Linked DNA regions of Homo sapiens: regions 1 and 3 are each linked to region 2. The links come from fine-mapping of genetic effects on gene expression. A gene starts in region 2. Each other region holds a variant in brackets. All regions are shown on one strand. Distances are from middle to middle.

Region 1 (8,000 bases), 110 kb after region 2:
ACAAAAATTAGCCTGGCACGGTGGCATGTGCCTGTAGTCTTAGCTACTCGGGAGGCTGAGGCAGGAGAATCGCTTGAACCCGGGAGGCGGAGGCTGCAGTGAGCTGAGATCACATCACCGCATTCCAGCCTGGGCAACAGAGCAAGAGTTCATCTAAAAAAAAAAAAAAACAAAAAAACATGAATGTCCCATGAACCCCAGAGGACTTGGATGAAGGAAGCCTAGTCCGTGTACTTGCTGCTTTTCCCCTTCCTCTAGTGGAACCAGGACAATATATATTTTTTCCTTTTCTAAAAAAATTTTTGTGGGTACTTAGTAAGTGTATATATTTACAAGGTACATGAGATGTTTTGATTCAGGCAGGCAGTGTATAATAATTACATCCTAGAGAATGGTGTATCCATCCCCTCAAGCATTTATCCTGTGTGCTACAAACAATTCAGTTATATTCTTTCAGTTATTTTTAAATGTACAATTAAATTATTGACTAGAGTCACTGTGTTGTGCTATCAAATACTAGGTCTTATTCATTCTTTCTATTTTTATTTTGTACGCAGTAACCATTCCCACTCCCCACCATGCCCCACCATTACCCTTCCCAGCCTCTGGTAACTATCCTTCTACTCTCTGTCTCCATGGGTTCAATTGTTTTTGTTTTTAGCTCCCACAAATAAGTGAGAACATGCAAAGTTTGCCTTCCTGTGCCTGGCTTAATTCACTTAACATAATGCCCTCCAGTTTCACCCATGTTGTTGCAAATGACAGAATCTCCTTTTTTATGGCTGCATAGTACTCCATTGTGTATATGTACCACATTTTCTTTATCCGTTTGTCTGTTGACGGACACTTAGATTGCTTCCAAATCTTGGCTATTGTGAACAGTGCTAAAACAAACAGGAGTGCAGATATCTCTTCGATATACTGATTTCCTTTCTTTTGGGGGTAAATCCAGTGGTGGGATTGCTGGATCCTATGGTAGCTCTATTTTTAGCTTTTTCAGAAACCTCCGAATTGTTCTCCGTAGTAGTTGTACTAATTTAACATTTGCACCAGCAGTGTGTGAGGGTTCCCCTTTTCTCCACATTCTCACCAGCATTTGTCGTTGCCTGTCTTTTGGATAAAAGCCATTTTAACTGGGGTTCGATGATATCTCATTATAGTTTTCATTTGCATTTCTCTGATCAATGATGTTGAGCACCTTTTCATATGCTTGTTTGCCATTTGTATTTTTTTTTTTGAGAAACATCTATTGAAATCTTTTGCCCATTTTTAAAATCTGATTATTAGATTTTTTTTCCTATAGAGTTGTTTGAGCTCCTTATGTTCTGGTTATTAATCCTTTATCAGATGGGTAGTTTGCAAATATTTTCTCCCATTCTGTGGGTTCTCGTTTCACTTTGTTGATTGTTTCCTTTGCTGTGCGGAGCTTTTTAAGTTGATGTGATCCCATTTGTCCATTTTTGCTTTGGTTGCCTGTGCTTGTGGGGTATTACTCAAAGAGGGGACAATATTCTTTACTACTGGGAATCTGAGTTCTCCTTTTTCTGTAGGTCTTTAAAAAAAAATCCGTTATATCTTAAATGAGCTTCCATAGCTCTTAATAGCTACAAAACAAAGTGTTACATGAAGTTGACATGATTATTCTGAACTTTAAACTATAAGGATAAACTGCTGTCACATGGGGTAGGATTTGATTTCTAATTACTTAAGATAAGATTGAGAAGTCTCCAGACAATATTTTCTATATGGGGCAAGTCTTCTGAGGATAGAACTAAAAATCTGCTTTGGAACCCTGCATGCCCCAACCTTTAAATAACTGTTTATTTTAGCTCCGTCCTTTAGAGTGGAAACTGGGCGGGGTGGGTGAGAGGAGCCAAGTTCTGGGGACAAAGCTGCTCTCTTTTTAATGAGGCATAATAATAGGCACATTCTCTGGGCCAGTCAGTAACAAACACATAAATAGAAAAAAATGGTCTTTCAAGTTGCTCTGAGCAGAATTTGCATTCCCACTGAGAACCTTGTTTCATGATATACTTACTTCACTGTGGGACTGCCGGAGGACTAAGGAAATGAACTGCTTAAAGATAGGGCCTAGGAGATCCTGTGGGTTCCATAAGTAGGGCCATGTTTTTCTTTCTTTCTTTCTTTCTTTCTTTCTTTCTTTCTTTCTTTCTTTCTTTCTTTCTTTCTTCCTTTCTTCCTTTCTTCCTTTCTTCCTTTCTTCCTTTCTTCCTTTCTTTCTTTCTTTCTTTTTTTTTGAGACAGAGCATTGCTCTGTTGCCCAGGCTCGGCTCACTGCAACCTCTGACCGACGGGTTCAAGTGATTCTCCTGCCTCAGCCTCCCGAGTAGCTGGAATTACAGGCATGTGCCACCATGCCCAGCTAATTTTTGTATTTTTAGTACAGACAGGGTTTCACCATATTGGCCAGGCTGGTCTCAAACTCCTGACCTCAAGTGATCGACCCACTGGCCTCCCAAAGTGCTGAGATTACAGGCGTGAGCTACCGTACCTGGTTGGGCCATGTCTTACTAGTGGTCACAAGATAGAAGACCCTGCAGGCTCTGACCCTTTCTGGAAGGTTTCTCTATCAGAACGGACATCAGGTGGCTTTTCCTCAAGCCCCATATTTAATGTCTCTCCCCAAAACAATTGAGATAAGTGGATTCATAGACCAAAATACGTAACAGGCTTAGAAAATAAGTGTTGGCCCAATGCGGTGGCTCACGCCTGTAATCCCAGAACTTTAGGAGGCCGAGTCAGGCAGATCGCTTGAGCTCAGGAGTTTGGGACCAGCTTGGGCAACACGGTGAAACCCCATCTCTACAAAAAATACAAAAATTAGCCAGGGATGATGGTGCACTCCTGTAGTCCCAGTTACTGGGGAGGCTGAGGTAGGAGGATGGCTGGAGCCCAGGAGGCAGAGGCTGCAGTGAGTCGAGATCACACCGTTGCACTTCAGCCTGTGCGACAGAGCAAGACCCTGTCTGGAAAAAAAAAAAAAAAAACCAGAAAAAAAAATAGTTGTTAATTAGTATGATTATGTTGGTCTCATTGCCACAGTTTATGTTGTCAACGCTTTCTCTCACTTTTTTTTCATCTGTTTGTCTACCTGCCCATGACAGTACCCTGTTCACAGTTGGGGCTTAATAAATGTGGAAGGGGTTTGAGTTTGGGGTTCAGGAGACAGCCAGGCAAAGAAGCTTCCAGAGCAGAGCTAACTTGACTCAGAAAGCTTTACAAGGAGTGTCTTTCTGTGACATGTTTTTTTTCCCTCTCCTTTGAAGAAGGAAGAGATGGCAAAACTCCACCATCCATCTTCAGACACATACTCTTCTCATTAAACATAGGCCTTTCTTCCCAGGAAAGTGAGCATTTGCTGTTGCATTTGCCCCTCTGGTGTGCTGGCCGGTGTTCCTGTTTTAATTCAGGATGCTGTTCACCCCTACAGTGTTCTCTTTGCATCACTGGAAGTCGTTTTGGAGTGGAAGTCCATTTGGACCATGAAAACATTTGATCTTGTCGGGTAGTTTAAAATTTCATTTGTCAGGTCAGTGTTTTGATTGTTTTGACCTTGAGGCTTTTTCTCACGGTCAATACCTTGGCAGTTTTAGAAAGAACTTTCACTCCCTCTCCGTCTTCCCCTCCACCTCCCATCCTTCCTGCTCTCCCTCATCCCTTCCACCCCGTCTCCTGTTGTGCACACACATTCTCTCTCCACTCCTTTTCTTCCTCTCTTACTCCCTTTGAAGTCTTCTTGTTTTACAGATTTTTTCATAGCTCTTTAAATATCTTCATTTCCCAAACGATTCTATGGAGCTGATGTTAATCAGAAGCCTTTAAGCTG[A/AGT]GTGTGTGTGTGTGTGTGTGTGTGTGTGTGCTGTGTTCCTTCAGACATTTTGATGGCTATTTAACAAAAATGGTGTGCACTAGAATAGATTCAAACTGACCTGGGTTTGAGCTGCAGCTCTACTACCAACACTGGAACTTCATACACAGGACACTGTTGCAGGATGAATTGCTTCTCTTTCCTTCCCTTATTTCTCGTCTGTGAAGTACACGTGTTGACAGCACCTTCCTCGCACTGGTAGACATGAGAATTCAATGAACCAATCCAAGTTGAGCTTTAGCCCAGGCAACTGTCATTTCTAGACTTTTTACAAAAATTTGCGACCTGCTTTTTTCACTTAATAATCTAAAGACAATTTAACAGAGGTTCTCTGAGCTGAAGCAGTGCCCTGTCAAGCAAATATTCCTCCAGCTCCATCATGGTTTGCAGAAACCTTCTGCTAGGACCTGCCCTCGGCATGGCCTGGCTTCTACCTAACTCTCAGGACTGGCCTTCAGGCCACGTGAAGAAGAAAGCCAACTAAATTTCCCAGAGTTCTAATATACTGACTTTTATCTTCTGTCTTGCAGCTGATGCTTTTTTCAAAGCCGCTATAAGCCTTGTTCCGGAAGTTCCAAAGATGATTAATATTGATGGGAAGATGCGGCCATCGGAATCGTTCCTTCTGGAATTCCTCTGCAATTTCTTTTCTACTTTATTAATAGTTCCGGTACGTTTCCTCAGCAGAACCGCAGGACATGTCTTCCTTTCACCTGCCTTATAATATTATATGTGTTCTTAGGCCTAAAACTGCAGGAACATTCTATCTAGTATCTTTGTGTTGGTTTTCCAGTTAGGTATTTGAATTGCTTAATGAATTTTCTATTCTTGCTGGGTGGGGATCATACTATAATAGTAGAGGTGAGGTACTATGTCAGCTCAGGCTGCTATTACAAAGTGCCATAGACTGGGGTCTTAAACAACATTTATTTCTCAGAGTTCTTAAAGCTGGAAGTCTGAGATCAGGGTGCCAGTCTGGTTGAGTTCTAGTGAGGACCCACTTCCAGGTTGCAGACAACCATCTTCTCTCTCTTTCTGTCTCTCTTTTTTTTTTTTTTGAGATGGAGTTTCACTACTGTTGCCCAGGCTGTAGTGCAATGGCATGATCTTAGCTCACTTCAACCTCCACCCCCCAGGTTCAAGTGATTCTCCTGCCTCAGCCTCCTGAGTAGCTAGGATTACAGGCGCCCGCCACCACACCTGGCTAATTTTTGTATTTTTAGTAGAGATGGAGTTTCACCATGTTGTTCAGGCTGGTCTTGAACTCCTGACCTCAGGTGATCCACCTGCCTTGGCCTCCCAGAGTGCTGGGATTACAGGTGTGAGCCACCATGCCAGGCCTTTTTGTGTGTTTGTTTAGGAGTCTTGCTCTGTCACCCAGGCTGGAGTGCAGTGGTGCAGTTATAGCTCACTGTAGCCTTGAACTCCTAGGCTCAAGTGATTCTCCCGCCTCAGCCTCCTGAGCAGCTGGGACTGCAGGCCCATCTTCCCGTTATGTCCTCATGTGACAGAAAGAAAAAGCAAGGGCAAGCTCTCCGGCCTTTTGAGCAATTGGTCCTCTGGGACCTAATTACTACCCAAGGGCCCCACCTCCAAATCCCATCACATTGGGATTAGGGTCTCCGTGTATGAATTTGCAGGGGGATACAAATATTTAGTCCACTGCACTCTCTATACTGCCAAGGCAGAGGTGTCGCCCAGTGGGGAAGGGCACAGGCCTCGGAACCAAGATGTCCAGCATGGAATCCTGGCCCATCCTTCTTCCAGCTCTGCGTTCTTGGGCAATAATATAACATCCCTGGGCTGCAGTTTCCTTGTCTATAAAATGAGGATAAGAACTGTCACTTCTGGGTTGCCATGAATATTAAGTTAGTGAGTACTCACAATGTCAGAACCATGCCTCTGCACATAGTAAACTTTCTAGAAAGCACTAAGAAGGTGGCGACAAAGTTCTTTTGATGGCAAATAACAGAAACTAAACATAGCAGAAATTAAGAGGGGCATTGTTGGAAGGATGCTGGGTTTTTCCTGGGATGGAAGAGATGTACAGCCAGGCTTGAGTTGGAAAGAATGAGGCCACTCCCGGGACCCAGCAGGAGGAATTCCTGGACCCTCCCTAGCAAGGGTCCTTATAACTTGGAGTCCATCTACTCCCTGGGGGTCTGGCAGAGTGACATGAATTTGGATGAGGAAAATGACAGCTTTATTTTAACAAACCTCTGAGTGAAATTTACCTTTCACTCGATGAATTACAGGCAAAAAGCCACAGTAGTAGTAGCAGTAGCTGGGACTTTGTCACCAAAAGAAATCAACAGATATGTTCACATCACATTTCAGATGTGAAAGATATTTCAGAAGATTGTGTATGTTCTTCTTCCTTTCAAAGCACAGCAGTTATTAAGCCCATTGCTAGAGCTGTTAATGCATTCACAAAGAAGCAACAGATTACAGTATCACAGAAGCATTGAAAAAATATTTTGCCAGCTGTATTTTAGTGTAATTGGTTTGCTTTTTAGTCTTATGTGTTTTATTTGCTGCATTAAAAATAATATTCCAAGGACTGGGCACCGTGGCTCATGCCTGTATCCCAGCACTTTGGGAGGCGGAGGTGGACAGATCACCTGAGGTCAGGAGTTTGAGACCAGCCTGGCCAACATGGCACAACCCCGTATCTACTAAAAGTACAAAAATTAGCTGGGCATGGTGGTGGGCACCTGCAATCCCAGCTACTTGGGAGGCTGAGGCAGGAGAATCGCTTGAACCCAGGAGGCGGAGGTTGCAGTGAGCCGAGATTGCACCACCGCACTCCAGCCTGGACAACAGAGCAAGACTCCATCTCAAAAAAAAAAAAAAATGTATTCCAAGGGCCAGGCATGATGGCTCACTCCAGTAATCCCAACACTTTGGGAGGCTGAAGCAGGTGGGTCACCTGAGGTCAGGTGTTCGAGACCAGCCTGGCCAACATGGTAAAACCCCGTCTCTACTAAAAATACAAAAATTAGCCAGGAGTGGTGGCAGGCACCTGTAATCTCAGCTACCAGGGAGGCTGCGGCAGGAGAATCGCTTGAACCTGGGAGGTAGCGGTTGTAGTGAGCCAAGATTGTGCCACTGTACTCCAGCCTGGGCAACAGAGCAAGACTCCATCTCAAAAAAAATAAAAATAGTATTCCATGGAGTGTATAGGCTTCACCTGGCTGCCGCAGGGTGCATGGCACAGAACAGATTAAGCACCGCTGGTAGAGCTTAATGTGCATGGGAATCTCAGACTCTTGTTAAAATGCAGATTCCTGGGGCCCCTCCCAGAGTCTCACTCAGTAGGTTGAAATAGGCTCACAAATCAGCATTTTTAAAATCATCTAATTGTTTTATTTTGAGAAGGGGTCTTGCTGTATGCCTAGGCTGAGCTCCTGGGCTAAAGTGATCCTCCTGCCTCAGCCTCCCAAGTAGCTGGGCCAACAGGCATGTGCCAGCCACCACGCCTGGCTAATTTTTTTTTAATGTTTTATAGAGGTACATTCTCACTACATTTCCCAGGCTGGTCTTGAACTCCTGGCCTCAAGCAATCCTCCTCCCTCACCCTCCCCAGTACCTGGGATTACAGGTGGGATCAACCATGTTTGGCAAATGGGCATTTTTAAAAGCCCCCTTCAGTGATTCAGGGGTAAGTGGTCCTAGGACCATATTTGAGAAACATCACCCTGAACTTGAGCCATAAAAGTGCCTGAGCTCCAGTGGATCCAGGTTCCTTTTTGGGGTGATGATATGTTCCAAAATTGACTGTATTGATGATCGCACAACTCTGTGAATATCCTGACAATCACTGAATTGTACATTTTAGCAGGTATACTGTTTGGCATGTGAATTATATCTCAGTAAAGCTGAGAAAACAGAAAGTGACTCAGCTTCTGACTCTCCCTGTTCAGATTCCAAGTCTTCAGACAGAGGGGAGCGAGGTCAGGAGGCCAGGCTCAAGGACTGCAGACATGGCTTCAGGATGGGGGCCTCTTGTTGTCCTGCAGGGAGGATAGGCGGCACCCCAAGATGGGGCAGCGTGCACTGGCATTTTCTAGAGCCCCTTCACTTGACACTTGATGTCACTGTTTTCAGATCTCCA
Region 2 (8,322 bases):
GGGGGGAAGGATTATTATTCATGTTATTTTCCCTGCCCAAGACTTTATTTAACCCTGGACTCCGTTTACACAGACAAAGTGACATCAGAAGGCTGAGCACTTATCTGGATCATTTGGTCAGTTTGGTAATTCCTGCTCCACACCCCTATTTTCCTCTTAATAATACGTTTGGGTGAAGACAAATTAGTGTTTAGTAATTGCATCATCTCTGTGCTTACCTATACAAACATAAGTTTATTTTATATGCCCAGATGTCTACAGAGACCCTTTTTGTAAATGTCAAGGACATTTGGATTTACTTTTACAGAATATTGAAAAGATAAGACAAATTATAAATAAGTTCTAAAACATAAATTTAATTCATCTCTGCATAGTGATTTTTGAATTTGATTCAAAGGGAAATTATTGCAGAAGAATGCCTTTCCCTCATTTTATAACTTTAAAAACTTGGATTAACCACTCAATGTCCACTTTCTTTGACTTACAGTATAACCATGTAGCCAATTGTGGCCCACTAAAATCTACAGAAGTTAATGTGGGTCACCATTTTGGTCAGAAGCATACATTCCTGTCAGACAACTAGTTGTCTGACAGAAATGTTAGGCTTCATGTATGTTACCCCAGTACTGTTAGAAACATTTGTACTAGGTTATAAGATCTTTCTGTGACAGGTAACAAATTTGGGGAAGACAGCACAATCTTCTTGAATGTAGCTCTTGGGAATGCATTATTACATCCATTTCTGTAACATAATAATATGTTGCATGCAGTTATATTTTCTATTTAGTCTGTATATTTTGTTCTTCATAGTCTGTTTTTTCTAGCATGCTTGATTTAGGAGAGAATAAAGGGCTATATAATAATAAATCCAGATTTCCGGATAAGAATATTGCCTGGTTAAAATTCTGCATTGCTTAAAGACACCCATGTTTAAGATTTTTCATCACTAACATATCCATTAAAAGTATCAACTGGCCAGGCAGGGTGGCTCACGCCTGTACTCCCAGCATTTTGTGAGGCCAAGGTGGGTGGATCACCTGAGGTCAGGAGTTTGAGACCAGCCTGACCAAACATGGCGAAACCCCATCTGTACTGAAAATACAAAAATTAGGCATGGTGGTGCATGCCTGTAGTTCCAGCTACTTGGGAGGCTGAGACAGGCGAATTGCTTGAACCTGGGAGGCAGAGGTTGCAGTGAGCTGAGACTGTGCCATTGCACTCCAGTCGGGTTAACAGAGCAAGACACTGTCTCAAAAAAAAAAAAAAAAAAAAGTATCAACCAACAAATGTTACCAAGATAACGTGACTTCATGAGGGAGAATGTCACTATTAATTTATCATACCATTTCCAAAAAGGGCTTTGTGCTTTTCACATAAAATTGAGACAGTGTATATTTAATCTAATTTAAATTTTAAAGAGATACTGGTATTTTGAAAATGCAACCTATATATATTCTTAATATCCTTTTAAGAATATGGAGATGAAGATTGTTTTCTCCAATTTTCTGTGCCATTTTAAATTTAACTTTGACATCCAGCTATAGACAGAAATAATAAGCCACCCTGGGTGTAAACTTGATTTTCTTTATTGAGATGTATCATGTATTGAATGAGTGAACCAGAAAATTAGAAGATGGTCAAAAAAAGTCCAAGTTACCAATTTTTTAAAATTTATAGGCAAAGTATCAAATTGTCTTCTTAATATGATAAACTGTGCTTTATCATTCTGAAAACTCAGGATACAGCTTATTCATAGCATTGTGGGTCTCTCCAGTAAGAAAGATGCTAAAAGTTTTGTGCACTTTTTGTGTGTGTAATGCAAATTAGTTAAAACAAATAGTTTTGGAGAAAGTTAAAACTAGCTTTAGAGTAAGGATGAGAAACTTGAGTGTTTTTAATTTAAAGATAAAAGCCTGTGTTTTACACATTCTTTTTTGGTGTTCATAGCTTCTTCTCATACAGGTGCCAGACACTGTTTGTGCTTTTGATGGATTTTTATTTATATACTTTTTTTGCTTATTTTTACTTTGAGTGGAATGTTCATTAATGTAAATTGTATTTATTTTTATACTTTTATTTTCACTAGTTTTGCTTCTAGGCAAAAAGCAAAATAAACTTTTCATCTTAAAGAAAATCTAGTTTGATTGTTTTTATTTACCAGGGGAAGGACTATTAAGAAATAGGCCGGGCATGGTGGCTCATGCCTGTAATTCTAGCACTTTGGGAGGCCAAGGTGGGTGGATCATGAGATCAGGAGTTTGAGATCAGCCTGGCTAACATGGTGAAACCCCGTCTCTACTAAAAATACAAAATTAGCTGGGCGTAGTGGTGCATGCCTGTAGTTCCAGCTACTTGGGAGGCTGAAGCAGGAGAATCGCCTGAGCCTGGGATGGGGAGGCTATAGTGAGCCGAGATTGTGCCACTGCACTGCAGCCTGGGTGACAGAGCAAGACTCCATCTCAAAACAAAACAAAAAAGAAACCGATATTAGCCAGGCATGGTGGTTCACATCTGTAGTCCTAGGTACGCTGGAGGCTGAGGCAGGAGGATCACTTGAACCCAGGAGTTACAGGTGGCAGTGAGCTATAATCGCACCACTGCACTCCAGCCTGAATGAGACTTTGTCTCCAAAACAAAAAAGAAAAAAGAAACAGATATTGAAAAGTATTAGGCCAAAACAAATATTGTATATAATCATTCTTTACAAGTTCCATGAAAGATATATCTCATTATTTAATATGTCCCCTGGGCCAGGTGCAGTGGCTCACGCCTGTAATCCCAACACTTTGGGAGGCCAAGGCGGGAGGATCACCTGAGGTCAGGAGTTTGAGACCAGCCTGGCCAACATAGTGAAACCCCGTCTCTACTAAAAGTTGGACTTTTCAGAAGGTAAAACTCAGGCTGGAAATGTCTTAACTTATTAAGAGATAGAAGCCTGCTAAGGGAAGGAGAGGGAGAAAAGAGAATGCGAAGGTTGAAGCTCACATCAAAGCTGTTAATTTGCACAACTTTAAGAATCCTCCTCTTGTTACTGCCTAATCATGCAGTGTGAGCCTAGGAAAAGGCTCCTCACCTTGACCTCTTATTGAGATGTTGCATGTGATAACATGCATGGCTGTATGGGAAGAGCTCCTTGCTTTCCCGTGGCCACCCTTTAACCCTTGTTCACTTCCAGTGTTGGGAATAGCAGGTACGAGTGGATATACTTTCCTACTCATACTGAGCTGAACACTGGAGGGCCCGTTCTGGAGATGATCCTTTTCCCTGTCATAGGTCACCATCTCATGAACAACCACAGACCACCACCCCCGAATGAAAAGTAAGAGTTATAAAAACATCGAATGCTTTCTCTCTAAGGGACCATAATGGATATCTAAGTAAGTTATAAAAGTAATAATTAAAAAAAAAATTTTTTTTTGAGATGGAGTTTCGCTCTTGTAGCCCAGGCTGGAGTGCAATGGCGCAATCTCGGCTCACTGCAACCTCATCCTCCCGGGTTGGAGCAATTCTCCTGCCTCAGCCTCCCGAGTAGCTGGGATTACAGGCGCCCGCCACCATACCCAACTAGTTTTTGTATTTTTTAGTAGAGACGGGGTTTCACCATGTTGGCCAGGCTGGTCCCGAACTCCTGACATCAGGTGAACCACCCACCTCGGCCTCCCGAAGTTCTGGGATCATAGGCCTGAGCCACCGCTCCCGGCCTAAAATAATTTTTAAAAACGTTCTGTGGTCGAAATGGATATCCACCTTCCTAGAAACACTGCTTTGCCAAGTTGGACGAAATGCGAACCCTAATTTCCCCACGTGCATTAGCTGTAGTCAATCATATTAGATCTAGGGCAGCCCTCGGTTGCTAGTCGTGGGAAGGGCATTCTGCAAGTGTCTAAAACCGCCCGCAAAGCAGTGGGTAAAGCAGCGGCCTAGAGGGGGCATGGCTGTCCCACGCCAAACAGCGTATTAGCCGCAAAACCAGGTACTGGCTGAACCTCAGTTTGCGTCTTCGCTCCGCCGCCTTCTGGAGTCCTTTCTGCCCCTAGAGGACGCAGGTGAGCTAAGCAGCAGTCATGCCCTTTACCATCATGACGCCCGCAGGCGGGACCACCCGGCACTGTAGACAGCTGCCCTTTACAATCATGACTCATAGAAACTACGGCACTCTGGCCGTGGCCGACGTTGCTCCTCCGAAGCATGGCGCCGGCGGGAGTTGTAACCCGGGCTGTCCGGAGCGGGGAGCTGCCCCTCACAAGCATGGCGTCAGCTGAAAATGAAGCCTGTGCTGTGCGGAGCGTCGCCTGCCCCTCACAAGCATGGCGTCTGCAGAAGGTGCTGTGCGGCCGCTGCGGGGCGGCCAGCTGCCCTTCACAAACATGGCGGCCGAGGGGTGCGGGGAGTGGCGGGGTAAGGATGGGAAGCCGAGCAGACGGCCCCAGAACAAGCGGTCATGTGACTGGGAAGATGGCCGTCTTTCCTTGGTAAGGAAGCAGCGGCGGGTGGGCTTTGGAGAGGGGCTGTCCTTACTTGTGATGGGGTCGGCCTGGGTCTGAGAGTGTGAATTCCTCTCTGTCGGGTTCTGGTGGTCGACCGGCCACCCCCAAGTTGTCTTGACCGTAGAATCCCTGGCCGCTACCGCGGTCCAGCGGAGCAATCTGAAGCCAGACTGGCGGGTTCTTGGTTCTCTCCCCGTCTGCTGCCTCTCTGCGCCTTCCACGGGCCCCTGTCCATTCATTCCCTAAAGAAAACTTGAGTTTCCAGGCTTCCGCGTCCCCAGAAGTTGGCGCGGGTTCTGGGGTCGCTGGATGAGGGTAATGGTGGACTCAGCTTTTAAAGTCTGGACGAGTCGGGAGATCTGGCTGTTGGTCAGTTTCCTCAGCTCCTCTGTTCACCTGGAGACTTGCTTTTCTCATCTGTAAAATGGCCGCCATTCATCCTATCCTAGGCACAGCCCTCAGACTTATTCCTTGGCCTCAAGGAGCTGACAGTATAATGGGGCAGACGCACAGTAGAGGGATGTCTAAAGAAGGCATTCGGATGAGGCACCAAGAAGGGAGTGATTATCCCCACCAGGGGGCTAGGGGAAGGCTTCAGAGAGGAGGAGTTAAATTGGGTCTTGGAGGATGAATAGGAGTCCACCATAGGGAGGGCGTGGCGTGTGCCTGGTTGGCAGGCCCGTAGGTCCCTTGTGGTTGGAGTAGCTAGGAATGAGTGACTGAAGCTTCAGGGTTCAGCAGGTGGTATGTGTGTGAGTGAAGAACTTGAGGAAGTTGTGTTGTTGATGATAGTGGGATTTGGGGACGGGGAATCTCTCCTGCATCTCAGAAAGCGAGATAATTTACTTTCTCTTCAAATGATGTGAAGTAGCTTAGATTAAATGAGCAAATGAAAGACCTTAGAAATAATCAGGTACAACCTTCTGCTTTTGAGCTTGATAAACACTTCATTTTGTCTTATTCCTTTCATTTGCCCAACACTTAAGAGACTGCTTCCTTGACACGCTACATCAGCATTGAATGCCTCTGAGCACTTCCACACCCTGAGGTTTTTTTTTTTTTTTCAGTTAATAGTCATGCTGGCTGGGTATGGTGGCTCACGCCTGTAATCCCAGCACTTTGGGAGGCCGAGGCTGGCGGATCACCTGAGGTCAGGGGTTCGAGACCAGCCTGGCCAACATGGCGAAACCTAATCTCTACTAAAAATACAAAAATTAGCTGGGCTAAATTAGTGGTGGCACGCACCTGTAATCCCAGCTACTTGGGAGGGTGAGGCAGGAGAGTCGCTTGAACCTGGGAGGCGGAAGCTGGAGTGAACCGAGATCATGCCACTGCACTCCAGCCTGGGCAACAGTGAGACTCTGTCTCAAAAAAATAATAATAAAAAATGAAAAAGTCATGCTGGCTTGACCAAAAAGCTAACCAAAAACATGAGAAACATTTGACTTCAGTGGATTTATCTGAAGTTTGCAATCAGAAAATCCAGGAAGATGCTGTCTTAATCTCTGCATCCCAGTACATTTCTACCTTTGGAATTTTAATTTTATATTACAAGCAGGCAAACAGGTGCCATAACGCTTTTAGTATTTAGGGTCTCTATAGTTCCTAATATGGCCGTGCTCTAAATATTTTGTTGTTGTTGTTTTTGTTGAGACGGAGTCTCGCCCAGGCTTGATTGCAGTGGCGTGATCTTGGCTCACCGCAACCTCCGCCTCCCGGCTCAAGTGATTCTTTGCCTCACTCTCCCGAGTAGCTGGGATTACAGGCGATGCCACCACACCAGGCTAATTTTTGTATTTTTAGTAGAGACGGTGTTTCATCATGTTGGCCAGGCTGGTCTCGAACTCCTGACCTTAAGTGATCCGCCGACCTCGGGTTCCCAAAGTGCTGGGATTACAGGCGTGAGCTACCACACCCGGCCCGTGCTCTGAACATTTCCTTTTGAAGTATGCATTCATCTTTCAGTTTCCCTAATAGACTTCTTGCTCCTTAAAAGTTAAAAGGACTGGCTGGGCGCGGTCACTCATGCCTGTAATCCCAGCACTTTGGGAGGCCGAGGCAGGCGGACCACCTGAGGTCAGGAGTTCCAAGACCAGCCTGCCCAACGTGGTGAAAGCCCGTCTCCACAAAAATACAAAAAGTAGCCAGGCATGACGGCAGGTTCCTGTAATCCCAGCTACTTAGGAGGCTGAAGTGGGAGAATCGCTTGATCCCGGGAGAATCACTTGATCCCAGGAGGCGGAGGTTGCAGTGAGCCAAGATCGTGCCATTGCACTCCAGCCTGAGCTACTAAGCGAGACTCCGTCTCAAAAAAAAAAAGTTAAAGGGACTGAGTTTTGTCCATCTTTGTATGTGGAGCCTAGAACATAATGGTGAGTGCTGAATAATATTTATGAATGAATGAGGAAACTGAGGAGGACTGCAGAGGAGAAATGAGTTTCTGTCATTAAATTTACATTTATCAAGTCCTTATTTTCTGTCAGACATCACTCGTAAAGTGCGTAACATGTAACATCATTAGGTTCTTATAACAACCCCATGTTGCGGAGGAAGAAATAGAGGCAGAGAGATGAAGCAGTTTACTTAAATTAGCCCCACAAGGGATAGCTGAGGTTTGGAAGCCAGAGGCTATGATAGTAATCATCCTCATCAGCTGGACTTCAAATCTATATCCTGGGCTGAGGTTTCTGGCTTGCGGGGTTCCCCAAATCCCACTGCCTTGTCATGGGTCTCCCCAGGAATGCCTCTTTTTACCCACAGTTTTTGCTATCCCTGCTATATTTTGGCCTGGCTAGGAGATGAGATGTCCTGTATACCCTAGATCACATTTTCCGTTTAATCCTGTGGTTATAGCACACTTGGAAATACCACCCTTTGGACCGGGCAAGGTGGTTCATGCCTCTAATCCCAGCACTTTGGGAGGCTGAGGCGGGTGGATCACTTGATGTCCGGAGTTCAAGACCAGCCTGACCAACATAGTGAAACCCTGTCTCTACTAGAAAAAAAAAAAAATTCCTCAGGCGTGGTGACGGGTGCCTGCAGTCCCAGCTAGTCCAGAGGCTGAGGCAGGAGAATTGCTTGAACCCAGGAGGCAGAGGTTGCAGTGAGCTGAGATCGCGCCACTGCACTCCAGCCTGGATGACACAGTGAGACTCCGTCTCAAAAAAAAAAAAAAAACAACCCTTGGAGTCAGAATCTCTACATCATTTTAAGAGTTTTTTTTATGTGTAGCGGTGAAGGGGGCTGGGTAATATTGTGATTGTGGAAGAAAAAGCTGTGTGGTCCGATTATGTGATTAGTAACCAAAAACTTATTTGAGAATTAAAATAGTTGAGCAAAGCATTTAGTGGATTTTGGTGTTTCCAGTATAAGGAGATTAATTTGGTTAATCATAGTGGGATTTCTGTGTATCCATATTATCAGAGGTAAATAATTTAAAAATAGGCCATTGTCAACCTTTAATGTGCATATAAACCACCTGAGGATTTAGTTAAAATGCAGATCTGATTCTGTAGGCCTGGGGTATTTCAGCCCGCCCAGGTGATGTCATTGCTGGTGATCTGTGAACCACATTTTGAATAGCCAAGGGCTAAGCCCAGCCAATAGTGGAGGTGTGAAATGGTGGCCTTTTTTCCTGTGGCAGGTGCCAGTGATCCAGACAAGCCCTTTACATTACTGGGGGTTGGAATTATGGGGAATTTTTACCAGTTTATATCAACTATGTTAGCAAAAAGAAAAGGAATGATTTTTGAGAAAATGCCCACAAGAGGTCGCTGTTAGCCTTACCAAAGACCCAGAGATTAAAGAAAATGCTTTAACATCTCAGACTTAGGGA
Region 3 (8,000 bases), 56 kb after region 2:
GAAATCATTTCCATGTGAGAGGTTAACAAAGGCCTTCATGGTGTTTGTAAGTTTTGTGTTTTTTCTTTCATTTCTCCATATTCTCTTCCATTCCTTAAGATGTATGTCAAGTCCAGAACTGTGAGAAATAAATTTCTGCTGTTTAAAAATATGTATGTCAAAATCAAGCTTGGGTACCAGTTCCAGAAAACTCAAAATAACAGTAATGAAGGTCAGGGCCGATGGGCCAGCTAGCCCCTGGTACCAAGGATCCTCACTTCTGTCTTGTTGCTCTCATGGTCAGTATGGCTGCAGAGGTTCCAGCTGTCATGTCTGCATTCCAGTCAGTGAGCAGAAAGAAGAAGTGAGGGAAGGCAAGCCCCTTTCCTTAAAGATACTTCTCAGAAGTTGCCCTTCTATTTATATATCCTGGGACCAGAACTTGACCCACGTGACCACACCTAGCTGCAAGGATGGCCCTGTGTCCTGCAGGAAAATGCGAGTTCTTTTATTAAAGAGGAAGAGAATAGCTAATGGAGTAAACTGGCAGTTTCACAAGATGACTCTCTTGGAGCCAGTCGTGAGCCGGCAACATAATTCTGGCTGGTTTCTCACCTCAGAGGCCTTGTTTTACCTTCCTCTGGCCCATTGTGATGTGTAGAGCAAAAGCTTAGATCACATTTCATGTTGCAGTCGCAGGTCCGTAAAGCATCTGGAATTCTCAACAATGTTGTCATAGTGACTGGTAGGTAACCAAGAACCTCTGGATTATATTAGAGGCAGTGGCTAAGAATGTCGGCCGCAGGGCCAGAGTGCCTGGGTTGAATTCTAACTCTTACATTTGCTTGCTGTGTGCCTTGGGTGAGTCACTACATTCCTCTGTGCCTTGGTCTCTGCATCTGTAAAATAAGATAATAAAACTACGTACCTCAGAGGGTTGCTATATGGGATCAGGTGAGCTGTCTGTAAAGCACTGCGAACGACACTTGGCACTTAGAAAGCCTGTGTCTGTGTAAACTATTGTTATCATCAGTTACTTCCTAATAGTGATATTTGGAAGGAAAGAAACAGGCTGAGTCACCCCCTTTTCTGCTCCAGGGTAATGTATTCCCATCCAGGGACTCACACAGATCCTGAGATTTAGGAGGGCTGATGGATCTTGTTTTTTGTATTACAGATCACTTTTCTCCAGAGAATGCAAATGACACGGCCAAGGAAACATGCCTAAATTGGTTTTTCAAGATTGCCTCCATCAGGGAACTCATTCCAAGATTGTATCCTTTTTTTTTTTTTTGGTCTGATGATTTTAAAGATAGGCTAAAAGAATTGTACTGTTAATAGAAGCCATGTGATGGGATGCCCTGACATTCTTATTGAAAGTTTGGTCCCGTTACGGTTGCTAGCCTGAAAACACATACAGGGCAAGCCACATTGTAGAAACCCTTGGACTCTTGCTCTTTCCAGTTTTTTGTCTTTTACTTTGAATACGATGCCATGTGTCAAGCATTTGTTTCCTTGAGGAACATTCCCACCTTAATTCTCTCAATTAAAATGCTTCATATTTGTGTTTTCTCTGATTCCAAGAACTTGAAAGAACAGGGTCAAGCTTTGCAGGGCAAATGCTACTATTGAAGAACAGATAATTTGACTTATACATAAATTCCATCTTAGTTACCTAAAGTTCTTTCTTTCCCCATAAAGCATTGATTAGAAATGCTCAAAACCCAGTTTATATTTCAGCATGCAACTATGAATCAACGTATAACATTTCCCACAATTTATTTCAAATAAGTATGAAACTTTGAAAACCATATGTAGAAACCATAAGCTACCTTAGTTCGCTGGATTGTTGAGGGCCACTGTGGTCCCCATCTCCTAAGACCCGCCTACTTCTATTCATGGATAGTTTAGTCTTTTCTCCATAGGGAGTAGACCTTCTGGAAAACATCTTCCTTAACAGGATGTTTTTGTAGTTACGTGGAGGCATCCATCCTGAAATGTAACAAATTCCTCTCCAAAACGTAAGGCTCTTCGGTAAAATCTAGAACCATAAAATTTCTAAAAATCTCCCATGTGTACACAGATAGTAATGGCAATGTAATAGTAGCCATTATTCACTGAGTACTTAATGTGTGTTAAGCACCTTCTGTTCTTTTTCTCATTGAATCCAAATGAAAACTGAATGAAGTAGAGACACCATCCTAATCCCCATATTAGAGAGAGGAAAACTCAAGCCTGGAGAAGTTGGTTAAGGAGGTCATGGAAGATCAGCTCAACTGGATTTGAATCTTGGCTGTACTGGTACTAGCTGTATGGTCTTGAACAAGTTACTTACAGCCTCAGAACCTCTGGCTCCCTCTCCTGGGAACATGACCCTAAGAAGAGGTCTGAGGGGGTCCTTTGGGTCACACATGCAACAATGAGAGTCACCCCTGGCACACGGTGGGCCCATCCTCCATGTTGGCTGCTGTTGATGATGATGATGATGAAAATGACGTCAGAAGCAGAAGCCTTTGCCCTTAGTGGCTTAGGTCCATGCCACTCAATTTATCACAATGTTTTGAGAGTAGTTACAGGACGTGGGGGACCCAGATCTGCTTTCTGCAGAGCAGGTGAAATGCTGAGTCATGTTAGATAGCTAGATAATAAATTCCTTGAAGCCCGGGAGTGACTGATTCATGGTGCTCCACAGATAGCTCTACCGATTGGATTTAGAATTTATCTCAAGTGTGTTGGATTTGGATCTAGGGTTGCCTGGAATAGTTTGGGGGAATAACATGGGGGCTGAAGAAACATTATTTTGCCTCACCAGTTGGAGGAGGATAATGCCTTAGGCAGAGGGAAGACATACGTTGCAGGAGAAATAAATTGTAATTCACATTGTTGGTGGTTGGAGGATGTCAGATGCCAGCCTGAGATTCACGGAAGGAACAGGGTACGGGACAGTAAATCTGTGGCAAACGAAAATACATGTGGAGAGAAGATCAAGGGGTGCCCAGTCGATGGAAAATAATTGAAGACAAAAACTGTTAAAATTAATAAAATAAATGTGACCTCGACTGGGGAAAAAATGTGGTTAGCCTCCACCACTGAGCAAATGATAACGATGAAAGAAATCATTCAATGAATGAATTGTATCAGAAGAGAAAGACTGTTGTTACATTGCCTTAGAAAACTGAAACTTTGACCTTGGTTTGTTACTGAAACTTGATTTTTCCCCCCCTCCCTGAAATTTAGGAAGTCTTTATCTTTATTTAAAAAATTAAAGAACAGCGAGTTCTCACGTCGAATATAATGCTGGCCTGTTTTTGTCTCTTGCAGGGGAATTTCAGAGTGCCTGCCCCGGTTGACATGCATGATCAGAGGGATCGGAGACCCACTAGTGTCGGTGTATGCCCGTGCCTACCTGTGCCGGGTAGGCCATGCGAGTCACTGCCCTTGACGGCACGGCTGCCACCCGTCTCCTTGAATGTTCACACAGGGCCCTCCTTCCCCACCACCCCGCAAGTCATTGAGAGAAGGACTTTATTAGTGGCTAATTTTAGATCATGGCTCTGCCACAGAAAGTAGAACTGTAGGGTTTCTTTTAAAAATTAATTTTAAAGTAGACCAACTTACTGTAGCTCTAATTAGGGGACGTTTAAGGTCATCTTCTTACAAATGAACTGGTTTTCAGAAGTAATTGTTTCTCAGTTCTTGCTGGGAAGGAGGTTCCCAGGGCCTTTGGGCTAACAGGTTGCTTTTCATTGACTTCAAACATGCTCTTCCTTTGTCTTG[A/T]CTTTGATTGCTTTATTAGTTTTCTGCTTGGCAGGGGAGCAGTGTCCCACATGATGGCAGGCCTCAGGGTCTGTGTGGCCTGGCTTAGGTGGCTGCTGTGAAAGGGGGTAGAGGGACTGATTAGAAATTACTTGCCCATGCCCTGCTTTAAAGCACCGTGAGGCTTCAGCTAAGCTATTAAGTTTTTTGTGTATGGAAAAAATGTAACCAATGGAGGTTATATGGTCTTTCTTTTTTTTGGAGATGGAGTCTTACTGTGTCGCCCAGGCTGGAGTGCAGTGGCGCCATCTCGGCTCATTTCAACCTCCACCGCCTGGGTTCAAATGATTCTCCTGTCTCAGCCTCCTGGGTAGCTGAGATTACAGGTGTCCGCCACCATGCCCGTCTAAGTTTTGTATATTTAGTAGAGATGGGGTTTCACCATGTTGGCCAGGCTGGTCTCGAACTCCTGACCTCAAGTGATCTGCCCACGTTGGCCTCCCAAAGTGCTGGGATTACAGGCGTGAGCCACTGCGCCCGGCCAGTATATGGTCTCTCCATAGTTTTCTTCAGCTCACACAGGGGCTTTGCCTCTGTCAGGACTCCCCCTAGCAACGAGAATCTTCCCTATCGTCCCATCAGTATTGCACATCCTTAGAGAGGGATCATTGCACCTGATAAGCCCCAGACTTCCTTGAGGACAAAGCTGCAGTTAGAGCCTCCCCCATGAGTTTGCACCTTATTAAATCAGAAGGCGAGAACATGTAGCCTGTGATTTGCCTCTTCTGCATGACAGCCAGCAAATGTCGGAAGCCCTGTGGTCTCTCAAGTTTCACGAAAAACTAAGTCAGTGCCCTCAGAGTGAGGAGCAGATATCCATTAGGAAGGGCACTTTTTATAGGTCTGTTTCTTGATACTGAGAATGAAAGAAAAAGCCTTTCGTTTAAGGGCATCCTCTTCCCTCTTTGCAGCAGAGGCCAAAGTGTGTATGCATCGCCCACTGCTTGAAACCTGGGGGGGATTTTCCATCCAGAGATATCAGGTGTGTTTCCAAGGACAACTTTTGAATATATTAAAGCTTGAATACTCCTCCCAAGTCAGTGTTTGCTGAGGCCCTACTGTGCACAGAACACAATGCCACATCCTCTGGGAGAGATGCAAAGATATTGTTTGCATATTTCTTTTTCCTTTTTTTTTTTTTGAGATGGAGTCTCACTCTGTCGCCCGGCTGGAGTGCAGTGGTGTGATCTCAGCTCGCTCTAACCTCTGCCTCCAGGGTTCAAGCAATTCTTCTGCTGCAGCCTCCCGAGTAGCTGGGACTCCAGGTGTGCGCTACCACGCCCAGCTAATTTTCGTATTTTTAGTAGAGACGGGGTTTCACCATGTTGGCCATGATGGTCTCAATCTCTTGACCTCATGATCCGCCTGCCCCGGCCTCTCAAAGTGCTGGGTTTGCAGGCATGAGCCACTGCACCCGGCCTTTTTTTGTTTTGTTTTGTTTTGTTTTGTTTTTTTGCACCAGAGTCTCACTCTGTTGCCCAGGCTGGAGTGCAGTGGTGCAATCTCAGCTCACTGCAACCTCTGCCTCCTGGGTTCAAGCGATTCTCATGTCTCAGCCTCCGGAGTAGCTGGGATTACAGGCACCTGCCACCATGCCCAGCTACTTTTTGTATTTTTAGTAGTGACAGGGTGTCACCATGTTGGCTAGGCTGGTCTTGAACTCCTCACTTCAGGTAATCTGCCTTCCCCGGCCTCACAAATTGCTGGGATTACAGGTGTGAGCCCCCGTGCCCAGCCTTGTTTATGTATTTCTTCTCTGCTGCCTTTTACCTTGTAGAACATAGCAAATGCTTTGAACACACCTTGACATCATTTGAATAAGGCCTGATATCGGAGACCCGGTGATAAAGACTTAGAATCATGCTGTCTCTTCTGCAAATAATTCTGGTTATTAAAGAGAAATCAGAATGTGGGGAAGTATGTATTTTTTGCAAGCCTGTTCCCTTTTAATGTTTGAGATCAGGTATGTGAGTTAGGGTACACGATCATGTTTGTTACATATAAAGTGCCTTTGAATGGCAGATGCAACTTGAAACACAGTGACAATGAGGAGAAGATGCAGAGGACAGAGCAGACCCCCCACAAGATTGGTAGTAGAGTGCCCTGCGTCTGTTGAAATCATTTTTGTCAGTCCAGGCAATGCATTGATTCCGCTGGTTGGGTAGTTTCTAAAAGTCTCTTTAACATTAAAAGAGTAAGAGAGACCAAGCGCGGTGGCTCATGCCTGTAATCCCAGCATTTTGGGAGGCCGAGGCGGGCAGATCACTTGAGGTCAGGAGTTCAAGACCAACCTGGCCAACATGGCAAAAACCTGTCTCTACTAAAAAATACAAAAAATTAGCCGGGCGTGGTGGTACACGCCTGTAGTCCCAGCTACTCGGAAGGCTGAGGCACGAGAATCACTTGAACCCAGGAGGCAGAGGTTGCAGTGAGCCAAGATCGCGCCACTGCACTCCAGCCTGGGTGACAGAGCAAGACTGCCTCAAACAAACAAACAAAAAGAGACAGCCTGTGTATTAGTAAGATTTCTTTCAGTTCCAAGTGGCAAAACCCAGTTCATACTACTTTAAGCAAAAGTAAGAACTTACTGGCCAGTGTCTGGAGAGGCCAGGGTTAGTGCAGGCATGGCTGGATGCAGGCCCTCAAAGGGTGCTGTCAAGAATCAGCCTCTCCCCACATCACTCAGCTCTGCTGTTCTTTGAGTTGGCTTCATTCTGTGGCTTGCTTTTTTTATATGATGGCCCATAGCGGCCTCTGGCTTCCATCCTACCACCTTAGGAACCTTATTGGAAAGTGTGTCTTCTTGCCAGTAGATCTAGCCAGAGCCTCAGGGCTGATTCTTGGTGGATTACCTCGGGTTGTTTGTCCACCCCTAGACTAGTCACGTGGCCATGGGTTGGGGTCTGGGGTTGGTGTCTGGGTACTTACTGACTGGGTCACATGCCCTTGCATGGAGCTCAGGGTGAGGTGGATCTAGCTCCACCACAAACCTCATGGTCCAAGAGGAAGGTTTGATTCCCCAGAGACAAATCTAATTTGCCGATACCAGCAATGGGGGGGATGAATGCTGGGCAGGCCGAAACAGCAGATGGGAATCATGAGCAATACCCTTGCTGCTCTGGGTAGAAATCTTTTAGACCCAAGCAGATATCCAAGCTGCTCATTTGGCCCGATGAGAAGAGAAAAACAGAAAACAAAAGCTCTGAGTGGGTAGAGCGTGGGGGGAGCTTGAAGCTGTTATTAAAGGAAGGTATGATTAACTCCTAACTCACAGCCGCTTCAGCTCATCTCCATGGCTCAGCCACCAGGCCAGCCTTTGCTGTCACCTAACAGATAATTATTGTCTTTTCTACAATATGATTAAGTGGAAGGAGAATCAGAACACTGTAGAACTGGATCTGATATTTCTTGTTAGCATATATATATATATTTAATCTATGTGCTTGTCCTTGAAAACAGCACTTCCTGTACCCAGCAATCACAGAGCTGCTCTTGGAATTTAACACCCTGGTGGTTCTCAAATGCCATCTGAAAAACATTATTAGTGTTACCCATCATGACCTCTGGGTAGTGGAAGGTGAATGGGAGAAATCTCTCCCCATTTGAAGAAATAGGGAACCAGTCTCACTTTGTTGCCCAGGCTGGAGTGCAGTGGCACAATCTTGCTCACTGCAACCACCACCTCCCGGGTTCAAGCGATCCTCCCACCTCAACCTCCCAGGTAGCTGGGTCTACAGGCGTGCGCCACCACACCCGGCTAATTTTTGTGTTTTTAGTACAGAAAGAGTTTCACCATGTTGACCAGGCTGGTCTCAAACTCCTAACCTCAAGTGATTGGCCCACCTGGGCCTCCCAAAGTGCTGGGATTACAGGTGTGAGCCACTGCAGCCCAGCCTACGAAGTTGTTTTTGCGGTTAAGCAGCAATTTGGAAACGAAGCATTTCTGAGGAGCTCAGTTTAAGAAACACTGTGATGTTGTGTTTTAAACCTATGAACTCCCCTCCGTAGCTCATCCCTCTACTTTTCCATCTAACCCCAGTACTGGCACCTTCTCTATGATTAGTAAATTTCTTCAGCTAGAAATGTTACAGTCTGTTTTTTAACAATGAAGTCAGGACCCAGTGGATTATAGCATTGTTACACTTCATGCTCATGTTATATAAAATTGCATAAAATGTATTAAAATTTATGTCTGCTCTTATCTC

Direction of the effects. Positions count from the first base shown, and alleles are read on the strand shown. Sizes are in standard deviations (SD) of each study's normalised expression. Not every link is listed here.
For the expression in monocytes of the gene that starts at base 4,429 in region 2, allele AGT in region 1 goes with a lower level than allele A (small effect, 0.37 SD a copy in Quach 2016).

The links. PIP is the estimated chance that this variant, and not a neighbour inherited with it, causes the effect.
Region 1: its variant is fine-mapped to the expression of VPS35L in monocytes (Quach 2016, PIP 0.95).
Region 3: its variant is fine-mapped to the expression of VPS35L in blood mononuclear cells (TOPMed, PIP 0.93).

What each region holds. Positions count from the first base shown.
Region 1 is chr16:19,664,744-19,672,743 of GRCh38, forward strand. It overlaps VPS35L (VPS35 endosomal protein sorting factor like), which reads left to right. Exons shown (of 31, transcript NM_020314.7): 27 at 4,417-4,556. Among named protein-coding and RNA genes, the nearest start is that of KNOP1, 49 kb to the right of the region's middle. The variant A/AGT (reference allele first, on the strand shown) is at 3,848.
Region 2 is chr16:19,551,275-19,559,596 of GRCh38, forward strand. It overlaps VPS35L (VPS35 endosomal protein sorting factor like), which reads left to right and starts at 4,429. Exons shown (of 31, transcript NM_020314.7): 1 at 4,429-4,472. The coding sequence starts at 4,456. It overlaps CCP110 (centriolar coiled-coil protein 110), which reads left to right. Exons shown (of 14, transcript NM_001323572.2): 14 at 1-2,134. RefSeq lists enhancers at 4,024-4,503, 4,063-5,025, 4,884-5,113.
Region 3 is chr16:19,607,022-19,615,021 of GRCh38, forward strand. It overlaps VPS35L (VPS35 endosomal protein sorting factor like), which reads left to right. Exons shown (of 31, transcript NM_020314.7): 10 at 1,157-1,253; 11 at 1,953-2,000; 12 at 3,301-3,394. Among named protein-coding and RNA genes, the nearest start is that of VPS35L, 55 kb to the left of the region's middle. RefSeq lists an enhancer at 2,201-3,400. The variant A/T (reference allele first, on the strand shown) is at 3,757.